Regions from separate parts of the Homo sapiens genome. Here regions 2 and 3 are each reported to be linked to region 1. The links are microRNA targets in miRTarBase. Many come from high-throughput screens and were not tested one by one. Region 1 holds a microRNA gene; each other region holds the end of a gene's coding sequence.
Evidence for each region. The annotated mature microRNA hsa-miR-6883-5p reads AGGGAGGGUGUGGUAUGGAUGU and lies in region 1 at 1,623-1,644, shown strand. An mRNA with a match to its seed (bases 2 to 7 or 8) in the 3' UTR can be bound and repressed. Matches are read on the target gene's strand: a 7mer-m8 pairs with bases 2 to 8, a 7mer-A1 pairs with bases 2 to 7 and ends in A, and an 8mer does both.

Region 1 (3,080 bases):
CAGGCCCCACTAGCCTTGGTCCCTGAGGAGGCCGAGAGGAAAGAAGCCTCCAGCTGCTCCTACCAGCAGATCAACTGCCTGGACAGCATCCTCAGGTAAGGCCTGCCAGGCATCTTCTCCACCTCGGGCTCTAACCCTGCCCACCCCAAGCCCTGCTCTGATGCCCTGTGCTGTGTCCATCCCCAGGTACCTGGAGAGCTGCAACCTCCCCAGCACCACTAAGCGTAAATGTGCCTCCTCCTCCTCCTATACCACCTCCTCAGCCTCTGACGACGACAGGCAGAGGACAGGTCCAGTCTCTGTGGGGACCAAGAAAGGTAAAGATCCAATGCACCCTGCTCCCACTGCCCCGTCCTGGCCTGGTGGCCCTGTGTCTTTTCCCTTCTGCTTCTGGGCCCTCTTGCTCTGCCCTGCTCTCCTCCCCAGCCTCCTGGTCTCCAGACTGTTCCCTCTGTTCCCTACCACCATCCCCTTCCCCTTTTCCCTGGGATCCTCTCTCCTGACTTCCCAGTGGGGGTGGGGATGGTAACTGGCACCATCTCTCTGCACAGATCCGCCGTCAGCAGCGCTGTCTGGGGAGGGGGCCACCCCACGGAAGGAGCCAGTGGTGGGAGGCACCCTGAGCCCGCTCGCCCTGGCCAATAAGGCGGAGAGTGTGGTGTCCGTCACCAGTCAGTGTAGCTTCAGCTCCACCATCGTCCATGTGGGAGACAAGAAGCCCCCGGAGTCGGGTATGGGTGTGGAATTGGGGGGCAGTGCTTGGGCTCCACCGGTCTCCCAGCTAGAGCTCCCTCCTGCCTTTCCCCTCCCCTCTAGGGCCTGATGGAGAGAAGGAGGCCTCCCTTGACCTGGGGCTTGGGGCTACTGCTTCTTGCTCTCCCCTCCCTGCCAGGCTTCTCGGCTTTGCCCTTCCCCTGTTCTGCTTCTCGTATTGTTACTGTCAGTTGAAACACAGAGTCTGGGATAGAGGGTTTGCCCTGAGGTGCTGACCACACAGGGTCTGAAGGCAAGGAAAATTGAACATCCCTGAAGGGTCTTTGGATATTGACCTTGAAAATCATGAGGGGCTGGGCATGGTGGCTCAGGCCTGTAATCCCAGCATTTTGGGAGGCTGAGGTAGGAGGATCACCTGAGATCAGGAGCTCGAGATCAGCCTGGGCAACATGGTGAAACCCTGTATCTACTAAAAATGCAAAAATTAGCCGGGCGTGGTGGCGCGCGCCTGTAGTCCCAGCTACTCGGGAGGCTGGGACAGGAGAATCGCTTGAACCCAGGGGGTGGTGGTTGCAGTGAGCTGAGATCGCACCACTGCACTCCAGCTTGGGAGAAAGAGTGAGACTCCATGTCAAAAAAAAAAAAAAAAAGAAACAAGAAAATGTGTGAGGGAAGGCCAAGGGGTGGGCTTCTCTTCCAATGAGAGTTGTGACGGGGTCATCCCAGTAGAGTTCCTGGCAGGGAGTGGCCACTGGAGGGGCCTGAGTATCGTCTCTTCTTCTGGGCCAGCTTTGCATGGAGAGGAGGACCCAGGGCCAGCCGTTGGCAGAGAGGTGACCAAGAAACGTACATGGAGACCAGGCTTGGCTGTGGGGCAGAGCTGCCAGGGGTTGGCTAGGCTATCAGACAGGGAGGGTGTGGTATGGATGTGTTGACCCCTGAAGTGGTTCTGATGACCTTTCCCTATCTCACTCTCCTCAGACATCATCATGATGGAGGACCTGCCTGGCCTAGCCCCAGGCCCAGCCCCCAGCCCAGCCCCCAGCCCCACAGTAGCCCCTGACCCAGCCCCAGACGCCTACCGTCCAGTGGGGCTGACCAAGGCCGTGCTGTCCCTGCACACACAGAAGGAAGAGCAAGCCTTCCTCAGCCGCTTCCGAGACCTGGGCAGGCTGCGTGGACTCGACAGCTCTTCCACAGCTCCCTCAGCCCTTGGCGAGCGAGGTAGCCACCTGGGGCCTCCTGGAGCCTGCCCTCTGCCCAGTCTAGGACTGGATTGTTGGGGGGTGGGTCTTAAGGGAGGTGTTTCTGCTCCAGGGACCCAGGCTGGTGTTGCTTCCACCACTAGGCCCTGCCTAGGGACAGGCCCCTCGCTAGCTTCTCCCCACTAGGATGGGGTTCCGGGCTGCAGCCAGAGGAGGGCAGCCTGGGGGGATGGCACTGGGATGGGCAGGCAGAGGTGCTGTCTCCAGGTAAGCGACTTCAGGCCTAGCCTGGGGGCAGGGGCAGGAAGTATGCCCACTTAGGAGTCAGTTGTCACTGATGAAGAGACATGCATAGATTCTGGGCCAACTCTGGGTGGGGTCTGGGCTTCAAGGGCAGGTGGAAGGCAGCCCCTCCAGGTGCCTGAGGGAGATCCCCTGCAGGCAGACGCAGGACTCAGGACTGGGCTTTCCAGCCCCACTCTTCACTCCATTGCAAGCTAGGCAGAATACGGCCTCGATGGGCAGGAGGAATGCCTAGGCTGGCAGTGCCCACAGGAGTTTGGCGGACCAGAGCCATCTGTCCATGTGTCCATGGACTCACCCTGCTTCCTCCATCTGCCAGCATGCCTCCATCTTCCGCACACCCCCAGCTCGACCCCTCGTGTAACCTCTCCCTGGCCTTGTTCCTTTCTCAATAAATCCCCTTGTCCCTGGCTCCTGTGATTCTTCCCTGAAGGTGCCCCACCTCCTGAGTCCCCCGTTCTGTGTGGGTTGAGAAGCTCTCTCTGGGACCTTGGCCTGTCCTCTCCCTGGTCAGCGTGTCAGGGCAGTGTGGGTAGCAGGGGTACTAACCCCAGGTTGAGGTCCTTGCTAACCCTAGTCTCTCCCCACAGGCTGCCACCACGGCCCCGCACCCCCAAGCCGCCGACACCACTGCCGATCCAAAGCCAAGCGCTCACGCCACCACCAGAACCCTCGGGCTGAAGCGCCCTGCTATGTCTCACACCCCTCACCCGTGCCACCCTCCACCCCCTGGCCCACCCCACCAGCCACTACCCCCTTCCCAGCGGTTGTCCAGCCCTACCCTCTCCCAGTGTTCTCTCCTCGAGGAGGCCCCCAGCCTCTTCCCCCTGCTCCCACATCTGTGCCCCCAGCTGCTTT
Region 2 (3,076 bases), not on the chromosome of region 1:
TACAGCACATTAGGAAAATCGTTTCGTTCCTGGTTTTTCTCCAGATCTTTGGATGAATCGACTCTGAGGAAGCAAATTGAAAGAGTAAGACCCTTGAAAAACACAGAAGTTTGGGCCAGTAGCACTGTAACAGTCCAGCCTTCCAGACACTCTAGTTTAGACTTTGATCACCAAGAGCCATTTTCAACAAAAGGGCAAAGTTTAGATGAGGAAGTGTTTGTGGAATCTTCTTCTGGAAAACACTTGGAGTGGCTGAGAGCACCAGGCACTCTGAAACATTTAAATGGAGACCATCAAGGGGAAATGAGGAGAAATGGAGGGGGAAATTTTCTGGATAGCACTAATACTGGTGTGAATTGTGTGGATGCAGGCAACATAGAAGATGATAATCCTTCTGCTAGTAAAATATTGAGAAGGATTTCTGCAGTTGATTCCACAGATTTCAACCCAGATGATACAATGTCTGTCGAAGATCCACAGACTGATGTTTTGGACTCCACAGCCTTTATGCGCTACTACCATGTGTTTCGAGAAGGGGAGCTCTGCAGTCTGCTCAAGGAGAATGTGTCAGAGCTCCGTATCCTGAGTTCTGGGAATGATCATGGTAACTGGTGTATCATTGCAGAGAAAAAGAGAGGTTGTGATTGATTGGATCCTTTTAGACAACTCCTCCAAAAGATGAACCACATTCTTTCCTCTTGGTTTGATATGGTTACCTGAATTTGCATTCAGTGTTATTTGTTAATCCATTTACGCTTTGGTCTGCAGAGACTATTAATTATTTGGTTGTTTTGTTTTCATTTTTGAATAAGCACAGATTCTGGCATTGAAAGCACTTGACAAAGGGTATTTGTGCTTAAATGTTAATATACAAGATCTGAAGAAGCAACAGAAAGTACCCTTCAGTACACCTCAGACTTTTTTTTAACCCCAGAGAGATAAAATACATGTATAGTGTTTTTCAGTATTACACATTGATTTAAAAAGATTATGCTGTTAAATAATCTTTTAAAACGGTATTTTTATAAAGTGAGGGGATAATTTCTGGTTCTCAGGTTATAACTGAGAGCAGTGTGCAAGATAATAGGTAAATTTGATCCATTGCACAGATATACTTTGAACCATGTGATGAGTTATCTTGTTGCCAAGGCCTTGCTTCTACTTAAAGTTTTCAGAAAACTGAGTGACAGTGGAGAGAAACAAGAAGTTTTACAAGGACTTTACTAAATTATAAGCAAACTTGCTTCAAAATAAGTTGACATGTGATAATAAGGTTTTCAATGTAGCCCAGGAGGTTTTTAAAGGCACTGTTAGGCTGAGCATGGTGGCTCATGCCTGTAATCCCAGCACTTTGGGAGGCCAAGGCAGAAGGATCACTTGAACCCAGGAGTTCAAGAATAGCCTGGGCAACATAGCAAGACCCCATCTCTATAAAAATTAGCAAGATGTGGTGGTGCATGCCTGTCATCCAAGCTACTCAAGAGACTGAGGCAGGAGGATCACGTGAGCCCAGGAATTCAAGGCTGCAGTGAACTATGATTGCATCACTGCACTGCAGCCTGGGCAACATAGCAAGACTCTGTCTCAAAATAATAATAATAATAATAATAAAGGCGTTGTTAGCTTGTAAGGAGTGGAGTATGTAGGTAGTAGGAGTTATATGCAAGTACCCAAGTGGTATTCTTCCAATCTTATTAGAAGCATGAATATTCAAGATTGATATTACTATTGCTTATTAGCAAGATTGTTATCAATCATGCTTATTAGAAGGATGAATATCCAAGACCAAGATTGACTAATGATGAGTCTGCATCAAGAACTAGGCATTTCTTCTGAGTTGACGGACTCTTTAGGAAAGGAGAATCTAAGTGAAGCACTGATTTTAGCTCTGAGAACAAACAAATTAAGGTACAGCATAGTTAGCCTTGGTAGAGGTATGACTTGGATTTGCTGTATCCTTTAAAATAGTATCTGGGCATTTATTTTATTGAAGGTGACTACATTTTATTAGTTATATTAGGAATTTAGGTAGAATCAACTTCTACTGATTACAGGTTGAATTTCTGTCACTTTGTAGAGAAACGAATAGACTGGACACTGTGTGGTCACTGTTTAGATTTGCCCATGGGTCTCTTTAAATCTATGTCATGGATCCTGAGACACAAATATAATTAAGACAGGTCTAGAGACAGGAGAAGCAGAAATAAGTTGACCCAGGAGTACAGTCTCAAGTAGTTCATTAATGAGAAAATTGACATCTGACAAGAGTCTTTTTACTTTATGCTGGATGAAAATCCAAATCTTGTTTTATTTTTTCCACTAAAAGTGACTAAAATAATAACGAATTTCATTTGTTCTTGGGTTCTTTTTTCCTTTAATGATTGTGCTATAACTTAAAATAATGATGTTACTTTTGAACAAACTTAAAGAAATATTTTTAAAGCGTATCTGAAAACGATTGATGTTTATAACTCTCTTTTGGCTTCAAAATAAGATTGTGTTATCACCATTTTGGTAGATGAGGTTGTCTGGTGAAAATGATGCATATGAGTTGTACTGTTCAGTGTACATCCTGCAGTAGTGGATGATTGAAAACATATATAAGTGGAGTATAAATTAAAAATTAATTTGGTTTCTTCTATTTCTTTTTTTTTTTTTTTTTTTTGAGACAGAGTCTCGCTCTGTCGCCCAGGCTGGAGTGCACTGGCGCGATCTCGGCTCACTGTAAGCTCCGCCTCCCGGGTTCACGCCATCCTCCTGCCTCAGCCTCCCAAGTAGCTGGGACTACTGGCACCCACCACGACGCCCGGCTGTTTTTTTGTATTTTTAGGAGAGACGGGGTTTCACCGTGTTAGCCAGGATGGTCTCGATCTCCTGACGTCGTGATCCACCCGCCTCGGCCCCCCACAGTGCTGGGATTACAGGCGTGAGCCACCGCGCCCGGCCTGTTCCTTTTATTTCTTAATTCAGGACACTAAACCATGACTGCAAGGGATTTCCTTGGTAAAAAGAAAAGATTCTCAGAGTCAAAATGGTCTTACAACTCGGGCTTGACGGCCTTTGAATTATGAATGGA
Region 3 (3,076 bases), not on the chromosome of region 1:
AAAAAAGTGCCAGGCTGGGCATGGTGGCTCACACCTGTAATCCTAGCACGTTGGGAGCCTGAGGCGGGCAGATCACCTGAGGTCAGTAGTTTGAGACCAGCCTGGCCAACATGATGAAACCCCATCTCTACTAAAAATACAAAAATTAGACAGGTGTCGTGGTGCCTGCCTATAATCCCAGCTACCCGGGAGGCTAAGACGGTAGAATCGCTGGAACCTGGGAGGCAGAGGCTGCAGTGAGCCGAGATCACGCCACTGCACTCCAGCCTGGGCGACAGAGTGAGACTCTGTCTCAAAAAAAAAAAAAAAGTGCCAGAACATAGTATCTTTCACCAGTGTGTGGTGGCAAGGCAAGGTTACCTAGAGGTTGGGCTTGGGCTCCTGGGTTGTGGTGGGCTGCAGTGGACCTGACAAAGTCTCCTCTGTCACTTCAGGGGTACCCGTGCTCCATCTCATCTCCACGCCCTTCCCTGCTGTCTGGCACACCCCTGCGGACACCGAGGTCAATCTCCACCCACCCACGGTACACAACTTGTGCCGCATTCTCGCTGTGTTCCTGGCTGAATACCTGGGGCTCTAGCGTGCTTGGCCAATGACTGTGGAGAGGACTGTGAGAGAGAAGGTCCCAGCGGGGGCCAGTGAAGCTCAGGCAGGATCTGCCTAGGGTGTGCTGGTTTGTCCTTTTCATACCTTTGTCTCCTAATTGTGCTACAATTGGAAGACCTTCTTTCTTTTGATTGTCTCAAGCTGCCACCCTTCAAGGACAGGGAAGAGACCACTGTGGGATGACAGCCAGAGGAATAAGAACTTGCTCCCTCCCCAGAGGTAAACACTTGGTCCAAAGGTTTGCAGGGACCAAATACTGTTCTTTTTTTTTTTGAGACGGAGTCTCACTGTGTTGCCCAGGCTGGAGTGCAGTGGTGCGATCTCGGCTCACTGCAAACTCCGCCTCCTGGGTTCACGCCATTCTCCTGCCTCAGCCTCCCAAGTAGCTGGGACTACAGGTGCCCGCCACCACGCTGGCTAATTTTTTGTATTTTTAGTAGAGACGGGGTTTCACCGTGTTAGCCAGGATGGTCTCGATCTCCTGACCTTGTAATCCGCCAGCCTCGGCCTCCCAAAGTGCTGGGATTACAGGTGTGAGCCACCGCACCTGGCAAAATGCTGTTCTTTAAGTCAGCGAACTGAAAAAGTAAAAGACTGCTGGGTGTGGTGGCTCACACCTGTAATCCCAACACTTTGAGAGGCTGAGGGGGAAGGATCACCCGAGGTCAGGAGTTTGAGACCAGCCTGGTCAACATGGCGAAACCCTGTCTCTACTAAAAATACAATAATTAGCTGGGCATGGTGGTGGGCGCCTGTAATCTCAGCTGCTTGGGAGGCTGAGGCAGGAGAATCACTTGTACGCAGGAGGCGGAGGTTGCAGTGAGCCAAGATCACACCACTGCACTCCAGCCTGGGCAACAGAGCGAGACTCCATCTCAATAAATAAATAAATAAATAAATATTTTTTAAAAAGAGTAAAAGACTAAAAGACTATTACTGGTCTGGCCCAGTGATGCCACCCAGCTAGATGAATTCTCTGTGGTTTGTGTTGTGTCAGTTCATTCTCCAGAACAGCAGCCTTGCTACTGCACCAGTCCTAACCTAACTCCCACACGGGGCACACAGAGGATGTCCTCATAACCAGGCACAGAGGAGACAGAAGCTCATATTTTGGAAGTCCAGATTCTTCCAGACCCAGTGGGTAATAAGCCATTGTTTCTGGCTGGGCATGGTGGTTCACACCTGTAATCCCAGCTCTTTGGGAGTCAGAGGCAGAGGGATAGCTTGAGCTCAGGAGTTTGAGACCAGCCTGGGCAACAGAGCATGACCCCATTCTCCAGAAAAAAGAAAGAAAAAAAAAAGCGTAACCAATGTTTCTGCAAAACACCACCTGCATAAGCCAGGTGTGGTGGTGCACACCCTGTAGTCTCAGCTATTCAGGAGGCTGAGGTGAGAGAATCCCATGAACCCAAGAGTTCAAGACCAGCCTGGGCAACACAGTGACACCCTGTCTCAAAACAAACACCACCACCACCAACAACAACAAAAAAGGCCATTCTGTAGAACTCGTGTAAATAGACATTGCATGACAAGGGGGATCTGAAATCCAAGAAGAGGGTGAGACAACATAAAATGAGTTTCCTCACTGCATCATGTGAATTTTTAAGACAGAACCCAGAGGCTCCCAAAGTATTTCACTATGGAACACTTTTTATTGGGAAGCACTTCATAGAACTAGGATACTTCGGCCGGGCATGGTGGGTCACACCTGAAATCCCAGCACTTTGGGAGGCCGAGGCCAGCAGTTCAGCTGAGCTCAGGAGTTCGAGAGCAGCCTGGACAACATGATGAAACCCCATCTCTACTAAAAATACAAAAATTAGCCAGGTGTGGTGGCATGAGCCTGTAATCCCAGCTACTTGGGAGGCTGAAACAGGAGAATTGTTGGAACCTGGTGGCAGAGGCTACAGTGAGCCAAAATCACGCCACTGCACTCCAGCCTGGGCAATAGAGCGAGGCTGTCTCAACAAACAAACAAAATACAACAACAACAAAAAGAACTAGGATACCTCAGAAGGTACTTTGGAAAACATGGGGTTTTGAAAGTCTGAGAGCATCTATGAGAGGAATGGGTAAGACAGATCTAGATTTACCGCAGAGTAGTTAGGGCACACTGTCTTTCCCCTTCAGCTGTTGGTACAGCACTGTGAGATGGCAGTGTAACTGCAAACTCCAATGAGCAAGTATTTCCCAACCCTACCTAATTTTCAGACTCAGCTGGGGTGCTCATTAAAAAATGCAGACTGGGTGCAGTGGCTCATGGCTGCAATCTCAGCACTTTGAGAGGTTGAAGTGGGAGGATCACTTGAGCCCAGGAGGTTTTTCTTTTTGAGGCGGAGTCTCGCTCTGTCACCCAGGCTGGAGCGCAGTGCTGCAATGCTGGCTCACTGCAACCTCCGCCTCCCGGGTACGAGCGATTCTCCCGCCTCAGTCTCCCAAATAGCTAGGACTACAGGTGCGTGCCACCACG

Region 2: the mRNA of TRMT9B is a reported target of hsa-miR-6883-5p. Seed matches in the 3' UTR shown: 7mer-A1 at 2,767-2,773.
Region 3: the mRNA of QPCTL is a reported target of hsa-miR-6883-5p. Seed matches in the 3' UTR shown: 7mer-m8 at 814-820, 7mer-A1 at 981-987 and 7mer-A1 at 1,114-1,120.

The regions. Positions count from the first base shown.
Region 1 is chr17:8,143,609-8,146,688 of GRCh38, reverse strand. It overlaps MIR6883 (microRNA 6883), which reads left to right and starts at 1,618; the gene lies at 1,618-1,695. It overlaps PER1 (period circadian regulator 1), which reads left to right. Exons shown (of 23, transcript NM_002616.3): 15 at 1-95; 16 at 187-317; 17 at 552-731; 18 at 1,696-1,938; 19 at 2,813-3,080.
Region 2 is chr8:13,021,397-13,024,472 of GRCh38, forward strand. It overlaps TRMT9B (tRNA methyltransferase 9B (putative)), which reads left to right. Exons shown (of 5, transcript NM_020844.3): 5 at 1-3,076. The coding sequence ends at 648. All of the region lies in intron 3 of LOC124901889 (a long non-coding RNA gene), which reads right to left. Among named protein-coding and RNA genes, the nearest start is that of TRMT9B, 77 kb to the left of the region's middle.
Region 3 is chr19:45,702,470-45,705,545 of GRCh38, forward strand. It overlaps QPCTL (glutaminyl-peptide cyclotransferase like), which reads left to right. Exons shown (of 7, transcript NM_017659.4): 7 at 435-1,518. The coding sequence ends at 580. Among named protein-coding and RNA genes, the nearest start is that of QPCTL, 11 kb to the left of the region's middle.